Homo sapiens: one gene and its partners. The protein of the gene in region 1 purifies or fractionates together with the protein of each later gene. This does not show direct contact. Each region holds a gene or a part of one and is shown in the gene's direction. Other genes may lie near its edges.

What was found.
Region 2: the proteins of CMAS (region 1) and NAA15 fractionate together in Homo sapiens (co-fractionation; one large-scale study listed by BioGRID). This does not show direct contact.
Region 3: the proteins of CMAS (region 1) and MTMR12 fractionate together in Homo sapiens (co-fractionation; one large-scale study listed by BioGRID). This does not show direct contact.

The regions. Positions count from the first base shown.
Region 1 is NC_000012.12:22,059,681-22,063,334, forward strand, and holds part of CMAS (N-acylneuraminate cytidylyltransferase), read left to right. Parts: intron 1-1,151; coding exon 1,152-1,246; intron 1,247-1,600; coding exon 1,601-1,772; intron 1,773-2,600; coding exon 2,601-2,754; intron 2,755-3,654. UniProt on the Homo sapiens protein: Catalyzes the activation of N-acetylneuraminic acid (NeuNAc) to cytidine 5'-monophosphate N-acetylneuraminic acid (CMP-NeuNAc), a substrate required for the addition of sialic acid.
Region 2 is NC_000004.12:139,339,427-139,343,080, forward strand, and holds part of NAA15 (N-alpha-acetyltransferase 15, NatA auxiliary subunit), read left to right. Parts: intron 1-1,485; coding exon 1,486-1,643; intron 1,644-3,399; coding exon 3,400-3,534; intron 3,535-3,654. UniProt on the Homo sapiens protein: Auxillary subunit of N-terminal acetyltransferase complexes which display alpha (N-terminal) acetyltransferase (NAT) activity. The NAT activity may be important for vascular, hematopoietic and neuronal growth and development.
Region 3 is NC_000005.10:32,229,701-32,233,070, reverse strand, and holds part of MTMR12 (myotubularin-related protein 12), read left to right. Parts: intron 1-2,723; coding exon 2,724-3,293; 3' UTR 3,294-3,370. UniProt on the Homo sapiens protein: Acts as an adapter for the myotubularin-related phosphatases. Regulates phosphatase MTM1 protein stability and possibly its intracellular location. By stabilizing MTM1 protein levels, required for skeletal muscle maintenance but not for myogenesis.

The DNA.
Region 1 (3,654 bases):
TAGCTGTTTAGTTAAATTTAAGTGTTCAGAAAAATTGGATTTGACACACATAGATACTACCATTTTTAAGCTTTTTTCTAAGGAGGACCATGATTAACCCATTCCTAAAGTGTGGAGAAAAATGTTTCTCATTAAAACAAGGTTTATGAAGAGACTGACAATTCTGAAAAAAAAAATGAAATTGAAATTGTCCAGTAATTGATCTTGTCATTCAAATAATTACTATCAGAAGAAAGACCCTTTCTCTTGCTGACCCTTGCCTAGAATCAAGAGACTGCCCTTGCCTTTGCCTGCATGTGACTTGGATGACTATTAGTCATTTTCATCAGTAGCTCAGAGATCTAAGAAAACTCTGTACAACAGATGCTACAGTTATTTTTCCTCCCCTGTGTTGCCTGTTAGTTGCAAATTAGAACAGAAGTTCCAAAAACCTTAATACTGCTTTTGGATGATGACAGGAGAGACTTCTTGAAAAAAAGGAGGATATGATTAAGGGATTTCCACAAAATCCCTTGTGGTCAGAAACCTGGAGGATGTAATATTTCTGCTTTTTTCAATATTAAAATAGAAATTTTCTTAAATAGGGAACTTGAACTGTTTAGATAGAATTTGAAAAATGTTAAGGTTATTTCTTTTGTGTGAGCTTTCTCCTTAAAAAAAAAAAAAAAAAAAAAAAAAAAGCTGGGCGTGGTGGCTGAAGCATGTCATCCCAGCACTTTGAGAGGCCAGCTTGAGGCCTCAAGAGGATAGCTTGAGGCCAGGTTTCCAAGACCAGCCTTGGCAACATAGCAAGATCTTATATCTACAAAAAACTTTTTAAAAATTTAGCCGGACATGGTGCTGTATACCTGTAGTACCAGATCCTTAGGAGGCTGAGGTGGGAGGATTGCTTGAGCCTAAGATTTCAAGGTTATAATGAGCTATGATTGCACCATTGCACTCCAGCCTGGGAGGCAGAGTGAAACCCTGACTCGAAAAAATAAAAAAGTAAAAATAAATTTAAAAATCATTTTTATGTGACTGATTTTTACTGGGTTATTCATTTTTCTCAGTACTGTAGAAATGAATTCATTGTTCTGTATTATAATAAAGTTTTGATATATGTGAATGAATATTAAAAACAGTATTCATGACATTTATACTACCTTTAGGGTGGAAAAATGGCATACTACGAAATGCGAGCTGAACATAGTGTGGATATAGATGTGGATATTGATTGGCCTATTGCAGAGCAAAGAGTATTAAGGTAAAAACAAATAAACCTTTATAACCTTTGTACTAAATCTTAATAATTATATTTCTAGATACTGATTTCTGATACTTCAGACATCTTAGGATCTTTGTAATTACTTTGTTCATGTGAGGAAGACATGTAAAATATGTGTTTACATGGCTTCAATAAAGTGAGAAACATTATCTGGCTAGACCACACTACTTTTACTTACTGTACTATATGTTAAAATATATATGTGAAGTAAATTTGGAGAGTAATGTTTGAATAATTGAATGGAGGGTGACATTTCATGTATTGGTTTAGCCAGATGAGAGGGAGTGATTAGTACTGCACTTGTACTCAAAGGTCTATTTTGGTTTCTTTTAGATATGGCTATTTTGGCAAAGAGAAGCTTAAGGAAATAAAACTTTTGGTTTGCAATATTGATGGATGTCTCACCAATGGCCACATTTATGTATCAGGAGACCAAAAAGAAATAATATCTTATGATGTAAAAGATGCTATTGGGATAAGTTTATTAAAGAAAAGTGGTATTGAGGTATGTGCTCCCTGAATATAGCAGTATTTTATAATATTTTGATTCAGGGTCAAAGAACATGCAAGGAATTAAGAGATTTAAATTTTTAGTATTAACTCTTAAAATATCTGAAATTTGGCCTTCATACGCCTAGAAAATTATTATACTATTTAGTTTTAGATGAGTAGAATTAGGAATTTGTTAATCAGCAAATAATATTTCTTGTTTATTCAGTAAATATAAACATAACTACTTTTAAATGGGAGCTATCTAATGTTTCCCAAAGGATCTTGCAGCAAGAAAGATTCCCTAGATAATAGGTGTACCATTTTAGAAAAGGACGATATCCTGTGGATTTTTAAAATCTAGCTTATTCTTATGAATGACATTTTTGATTCAAAATAACTTAACGTTTAAGTGTATTTTTTTAAATGAAAGCTAGCTAAGATAATTATAATTTACCAGAAATCCTAAATATGTATTGCTAAGCAGCACAAGAGAGAGGTTATAGACTTTCCTCTGGATAAATTGAATTATAGGAGAATCTTAGAGTAGTATCAGACAATATATGTTGTAATTTTTACCTGTAGATAGAATCCTTTCTATTGTAGAAAATAAAATACTGTGTCTCACCTTTATTGGGCTATGAGAAATAAAATGAGCTTTGTTTTAAAGCATCATGATTTTAATTCGACAGTCAGTTTTCTTACTTGGACCTTCAGAAAGTCAAAAGATGACTCGTTTGTGATTTGGACTGTCTACAAGGTCAATTATTATGAAAGATTTCTGTTTTCTTCACTTTTTAATTTTTCCCTTCTTCCTCCAATCCTTTTTTTTTTTTTTTTTAAGGTGAGGCTAATCTCAGAAAGGGCCTGTTCAAAGCAGACGCTGTCTTCTTTAAAACTGGATTGCAAAATGGAAGTCAGTGTATCAGACAAGCTAGCAGTTGTAGATGAATGGAGAAAAGAAATGGGCCTGTGCTGGAAAGAAGTGGCATATCTTGGTTGGTATCTTTTTATTCACCCATAGTAAAATGGACCAGGAATTAATTATTTACTTATTTTTAAAGAAATGACAAAGCACATCCTCCAAATGGGTATGATTGTAGGGAAATAGGAACTCTTTTAACAAACACTGCTGATCAAACTGTTAAACTGGGACAGTCTTTCTGGAGGTTAGTTTGATAATAGGTATCAAATGTAGAATGATTATTAGCACAAGCTGTGAAGTCAGACTGTACCACTGATTAGCCAGTTGTGATAAGATGAATGTTGTTTCCTCATCTGTAAACTGGAGATATCGAGAGTACCTATTACCGTAGGGCTCTGGAAGGGATTAATAAAATAATATGAGTAAAGCACTTAGCAGAATTTCTAGTACATATGAATTACACTCTGAATAGTTTTTGCTGCTAATTGAATGTACATACTTTTTCCTCCAAATTCCAATTCCAGGAAAGAAATGAGACAAATGGGCCAATAGTGAAGTTAAAAGAACCCACTTAAATGTCCTGTGAAAAATAGAATATCCCTAAAAAGGATTACTATGCAACCATTACAAACAGTGCTGTGACCTGTATTTATTTGCATGATCAAATATAACAATGTTTTTCACTTGGATATTAAGCAATACACTTACTTACCAGGTACCTATGATGATACGCAGCATGGAACTGGTTGTGGGAACTGTAGGCTTTCTGCTTGCAGAGCTTACAGTCTGATGATGTCAACATTTTAAAATTGATAAGTTATTAAGATGCATAATAACTATAAATCATGTATGAAAGCAGTATTTACAAGGGTAATATGAGCCTCAAAATAAGAAGCACAGGAAAAACTTTGGGAGCATGTGATCTAGAGACTTCAGGAATAACCCTTAAACCACACATGAAGATTTAATGGAC
Region 2 (3,654 bases), on another chromosome or scaffold:
TTTGAGGCTACAGTGAGCTATGAGTGTGCCACTGCACTCCAGCCTAGGTGATAGAGCGAGACCATCTCTTTTAAAAAACGCAATAATTAGGAGGCGGGCGGATCACGAGATCAGGAGATCAAGACCATCCTGGCCAACATGGTGAAACCCTGTCTCTACTAAAAATACAAAAATTATAGCTGGGCGTGGTGGCAGACGCTTGTAATCCCAGCTACTTGGGAGGCTGAGGCAGGAGAGTTGCTTGAACCTGGGAGGCAGAGGTTGCAGTGAGCTGAGATCATGCCACTGCACTCTAGCCTGGTGACAGAGCGAGACTCCATCTCAAAAACAAACAAACAACAACAACAACAACAAAAAACAACAAAACCCAATTACTTTGGTAGGAGAATAAAAGAAGACAGACTGAAGATAGGTGGGTTGGGTAGCTGGTACAGTAATCAAGATCTAAAGTGAAAAAGGGCTGTATTTGGGAAGTGGAATATTCTCCTCCTTGATAGCAGTTTTTACAACCTACTTTAATTTTGCTTATTTATCTGTCCTTTACTAGACTTTAAGATCTTTTAATATAGGAGGCTATTTTGATGACCTACGTCTTAGTTATTAAGAAGTTTTAGGCTGGGTTTGGGAGCTTATGCCTGTAATCCCCGCACTTTGGGAGGCCAAGGCAGGTGTATTGCTTGGGCTCAGGAGTTTGAGACCATCTTGGGCAACATGGCGAGATCCCATCTCTACCAAAAATAGAAAAAAATAGCTGGCATGCTGGTGTGTGCCTGTAGTCGCAGCTACTCAGGAGGCTGAGGTGGGAGTATCACTTGAGTGCAGGGAGTGGAGGTTGCAGTGAGCAAAGACCACACCACGACACTCCAGACTGGGTGACAGAGCAATACCTGTCTCAAAAAAAGGGAAAGAAGTTTTAATAATTACGGTTAAATGAATGAATGTTTTTATTTTATATGTGGCTGAGTTTTAGAAACTTTGTATTACACTAAGGGTTGTCCTAAGAATCTTGTTAGTTCAAGAAAATAAAATCTTCATGACTTTACATAACTGGATTCCATGAAGACCCATTCCTTCTTTTTCCTTTTACTATTAATAATATAGTAACTGTTTACATATATATATATTGACTTTGTGCCAGCCAGTGAGCACTTTATATATGTTATCCCATTTAGTTGTCAGTAGTATGATTTGCTGCATAGACTATTTGTTTACATTTTAGTAATGAGGAAACTTAATGAGACTGATTTGTCCAAGGTTACAGAGCTGATAAGGTAGGCAAGACCTAATTTTCTCTGGCTGCAAAAGCTGTGCTCTTTTCCACTGTATTAAACTGCTTTATATCTTTGAAATCAATCTCCCCCTCCCCTTCCCCTTCTTTTTAAGCTTGTAGTTTTATAAATGGCTGTGGTTCTCCAAGTTTTTTGGGAGGTCGTTTGGAATAGTAATTTTTGACTTGTAGGTTGTACCCTTAACTAAATTCTTTAGGTTGGCACGTTTATGGCCTTCTTCAGAGGTCAGACAAGAAGTATGATGAAGCCATTAAGTGTTACAGAAATGCACTAAAATGGGATAAAGACAATCTTCAAATCTTAAGGGACCTTTCCTTACTACAGATTCAAATGCGAGATCTTGAGGGTTACAGGGTAAGTAAAATAGAGACTTTTTTTTTTAATTCTAAGGGGAAAATATGTACAACTTTGAGTACTTTCAGATACATAAATTTTTTATTTCATTTTGAAAATAATTTAATTGAATTTTTTTTTCCTCCTACCACAGTGGTTATGTTTATGATTGGAATAATCAGATCTTTAAAAATAAATTATTTTATGGTGAGGCAGATTTGGCCTACTGTGTAGGGTTGACTTAATTTGATAAAAATTAACATCAGGCCAGGTGCGGTGGCTCACGCCTGTAGTCCCAGCACTTTGGGAGGCCCAGGTGGGTGAATCATGAGGTCAGGAGATCGAGACCATCCTGCCTAACACAGTGAAACCCCATCTCTACTAAAAATACAAAAAATTAGCTAGGCGTGGTGGCAGGTGCCTGTAGTCTAGCTACTCAGGAGGCTGAGGCAGGAGAATGGCCTGAACCCGGGAGGTGGAGCTTGCAGTGAGCCAAGATCACGCCACTGCACTCCGGCCTGGGTAACAGAGCGAAACTCTGTCTCAAAAAAAAAAAAAAAAAAAAAAAAAAGAAAATCAGTACTCCTCAAATAAACAATGCCTTTGTCTAGTATTGACATGTAACTCTAACATTTACTTCCCACATTTTTCTGGAAAGCAAAACAAAAAAAAAATTTTTTTTTTCTTGGAGACATTAGAGTCTCACTCTGTTGCCCAGGCTGGAGTGCAGTGGCATGATCTTGGCTCACTGCAGCTTCCACCTCCTGGGTTCAAGCAGTTCTCATGCCTCAGCCTCCTGAGTAGCTGGGGCTACAGACATGTGCCACCATGCCCAGCTCATTTTTTATATTCTAATAGAGATGAGGTTTCACCATGTTGCTCAGGCTGGTCTTGAACTCCTGAGCTCAGGCAGTCCACCCCACCTTATTCTCCCAAAGTGCTAGGATTACGGGCATGAGCTGCTGCACCTGGCAAAAACAAATGTTTTGTTTCTTCTTTCTACCTCCACTGACTCTAATATATTTTTGTAGCTTCGATTTTAACCCTTAAATTAGTGTTAGATCTATTTAGTTCCTCTTTCATATTCTTTCCTCTTTATGTATGTTAACTCTGTAGTTGGACACTTAATTTTTAAAAACATTTTTGAATATTTTTCCTTTGTGCTGTTCTTTCCATCCTGCCTCTTTTCTGGGACTGAGCAGATCAAGAAATAAAGAAGGGTCTTAAGTTTGGTCTTAAGTTTTAAAAACTTAAATCTGGTCTTAAGTTTTAAAAAAATTCTAAGATTAGCTTGGAGGCTTCATTATGTTCTTAACAAATATTTCTTTGCCTCCATAAAGCTACACAATATGGATGTTTGAAGTATTTTCTATTATTGTTCCCATCATTGTGTTGTAAAATGCTTGGGGTTGTGGGATAAATTAATGTGTGTTTTTTTTTTTTTTTTTTGAGACGGCGTCTTGCTCTGTTGCCAGGCTGCAACCTCTGCCTCCCGGGTTCAAGTGATTCTCCCGCCTCAGCCTCCTGAGTAGCTGGGACCACAGGCGTGCACCACCATGCCCAGTTAATTTTTGTATTTTTGATAGAGACGGGGTTTCACCATGTTGGCCAGGATGGTCTCGATCTCTTGACCTCGTGATCCACCCGCCTTAGCCTCCCAAAGTGCTGGGATTACAGGCGTGAGCCACTGCGCCTGGCCTAATATGGAGATCTTTTAAAGGAGCACTTGCTGTTACTAAAAGCCTAAGAAAAAGTGTTTATTTTTTTCCTTTTAAAGGAAACGAGGTATCAGTTACTTCAGCTTCGACCTGCGCAGAGAGCATCATGGATTGGTTATGCTATTGCTTACCATTTATTAGAAGATTATGAAATGGCAGCAAAGATTTTAGAAGAATTTAGGAAAACACAACAGGTAATAACTAGAAGCCATTTTACTAAGTCTGATCCTAAGTATAACTAAAAAAATAATGTGCATAGTCTGGCTTACTTTTAATTTTGAAATAGTTTCAAACTTATAGAAAAGTTGCAGGAA
Region 3 (3,370 bases), on another chromosome or scaffold:
ATAATCCCAAAGTTCCCTAACTGATGAATTATTTAACTGACATTTCCTAGCTCTGTCTCCAGGCCCAGAATTTCTCCCCCACAGAGTCCACAAAGGAGAGAGCAGTGATGGTAAGTCTAAGTCGATGTGTGTCACTGCCTTCTCCATGCCATCCTTATCCTGCCTGATCTGGAGGGCTTCAGAAAGCCTGGCCCTTTCTGGTGTCAGAGTTGGTTCCATTCTAAAGAGGACTGGGGACCTGGGTGAGCCACGGCCAGCAGAGACGATGTTGGCTGCTGAACGACTCAGAATGGCCACTTTGCCCTTTTAGGGGCCGCAGGCCCAGGGTGGAGTTTCCCCTTTCTGGCTGAGCCTCTTCTGCCAGTTTAACCAGAATTGCCCTGAGCCCCAGAACAGCTTGGCCAGAAATTGGTTTTTCTTCAGTGTGTTGTGCCCCCTGGTGGCTGCATGCACATTCTCATGAGAGCTGGATTGGCACCAGAGAAACTGCCCTGTGCCAGAGTGGCAGGGGACCTCAGAGACAGCGAGGACAACGTCTGTTGTGTTACGGGAGGAACCTAAGGCTCCCCCTTCCAATAATGGATTTCATTTCTCTCCTCAGACCTAGCTTTTCTAATCATCTCTTTTCCTTGGGAGATAGGGACAGACAGCCTAAGCTCCAGGAGTTGGCAGGTGGGAAAGGACTGAGCTGAAGGGGTGGAGAATTTCAGGTTGCACTAGCTAAATCACAGTTGGGACGGGGGCGACAAGAAACCTTGAAGCCTTTGGGTAAGAAGACCAGATATCAGGTGGAGCAATGTGTTGAGCGGCCTGGTGGCCTGGGGGAAGTTCTGCAGAGACTCTGAGGAAGCAGGGGCTGAGCAGCATGTGGTGCTGCCGTGCAAATGCCACACGGTGGGGGGGACCCATTCCAGTGTGCAGCCTCGGTGTCAGCCGCAGGCCCGGGCCAGGCTTTGGCCTGCAGAGCTGCTGGCATGTCAGCTGGTCTTGAGTGCTCCCTTTGCTTAGGAGATAGAGAGAAGGGGGCTTCCAGGACCAAGGAGAGCTCAGTAGAGAGCCCAGGCTCTGGAGCCAGACTATTTGAACCACCTTTGGCACTGAGCAGCAGTGCCTTCGGCAGATTGCTTACCTCTGTGCCTTAGTTTCCTTGCTTGTAAAGTGGGGCAATAATAGTGACTTTGAGAATGAGGTGCTCAGTGAATGTGAGTACTGAGCACAGAACCGAGCAGGCAGGAAGCACTGGGTGGTGGTTCAGTGTAGTCCCTGCCCTGCCTGACACATCTTCACGATGGAGAAAAAGAGAGGCCACTGAATCCTGGCCTTCATCTTTCCTGACCCTGGATGGAAAGTCAAATCCTGGTCACCTCCGAGCTGTGGTCTTGTGGATGGTTTTGTTTTCTTTTTAATATTTTTATTGTTATTCCATATTTCATAATAAGGAAATAATTTTCTTTACAATAAAGAATATCTTTTTACAAGGAAGAACCATTGATGGAAATATGTTAGAGAGTTTTAGAGTGAACCTGAAAATTAAGTTGTTATCTCTTCTTACTTCAAATGAACAGTAGCAAAAGAGCTGGACAAACAGCTTCTCCCCACATGTTTTTACTTCTGCTTTGGGCACTGGGGAACCCTCATGACCTTCCGACCACATCCATCTTTTACAACCCTTTTTTTTTTTTTTTTTTTGCGAGCCAGAGTTTTGCTGTCATTGCCCAGGCTGGAGTGCAACGGCGTGATCTCGGCTCACTGCAGCCTCTGCCTCCTGGGTTCAAGCAATTCTCCTCCCTCAGCCTCGGGTGCCCACCACCACACCCTGCTAATTTTTTCTATTTTTAGTGGAGATGGGGTTTTGCCATTTTGGCCAGGTTGAGGTTGGTCTTGAACTCCTGGCCTCAGGTGATCTGCCCGCCTCGGTCTCCCAAAGTGCTAGGATTACAGGCATGAGCTACTGCGCCCAGCCTCAAAACCCTTTCTCAGTGCACCCCCAAATATAATACTCTGCTCTGGCCACAGAGAGAATGACCAAGGGGGGAAATATGAAAATGTGAAAATGCTCTCCCATTTTCTACTCCATGCAGGTTGCCAGACAAGTCTGGTCAGCTTAGCTGGCTCATCACATTTCTTTGCTCTCACCTGCCTGTTTTCTGTATCTAAAAGAATCTTTATGACTTCGGCTTAAACTCCCACTGGATGCCTGATAAGCTGCTATTTCACCCATGTGATAGTATCTTCTGGTAGTTAGCAGTGCCTCCTTGCAGTTGTTCAGAAGATTGTAGTGGTTAACAGCCTTAAAGTTCTCAAAGAAGAAACATCTTTTTCCCTTTAGAACATGAATGGGCCTGACCCACAAGTTCCCCTAAATCATTAAACTATCTTAAGTTAAACAGCTTTTTCAGAAGTGCTTTGTGTCCTGTGGTGCCCCTGTGACAGAGGAGGAGGGCACCAAAAGCTCCTTTCTCTGTGTCCCAGCATGCCTTTCTGCACAGCTGCCACGTGCACCTGCTTCCCCATTTGTTTCTGGTACAGTGTGCACCATGGCAATACACAGGAATACCCCACCTCTGGATGTCACAGCGTGTTAATGAGTGTGCATTCACATGGCAACACTGATGTCTCTTGGAACTTGTTAAAGCAGGGTTATGCTCTTTTTGTTATGGTAACAGCTGTTAACTGTGCCTGTTATGTTAACCAGTGATTTTTATTTGTGTTTTCTCTCAAAGCATCAACGACAACTTTCTTTGCCACTTACACAATCTAAGTCATCTCCCAAAAGAGGATTTTTCAGGGAAGAAACAGATCATTTAATTAAAAACCTTCTGGGCAAGAGAATTAGCAAACTTATTAATTCTTCTGATGAGCTCCAAGACAACTTTCGAGAGTTCTATGACAGCTGGCATAGCAAGTCCACTGACTACCATGGTTTGTTGTTACCGCATATCGAGGGGCCCGAAATCAAAGTCTGGGCCCAGCGCTACCTACGTTGGATTCCAGAAGCCCAAATCCTAGGTGGTGGCCAAGTGGCCACTCTGAGCAAACTCTTGGAAATGATGGAGGAAGTCCAGAGTTTACAAGAGAAGATCGACGAGAGACACCACAGCCAGCAGGCCCCCCAGGCTGAGGCCCCCTGCCTGCTGAGGAACTCTGCCCGCCTCTCGTCTTTGTTTCCTTTCGCTCTGCTCCAGCGACATTCCTCTAAGCCCGTCTTACCCACCAGTGGCTGGAAAGCTTTGGGAGATGAAGACGATTTGGCCAAACGAGAAGATGAGTTCGTGGACCTAGGGGATGTGTGACCTGTTTGTTGAGTGATTGTGAAAGAGGAATGTGGGAGATTGGGACAGCTGATCCCTGGATTTGTGTCACGCTACAG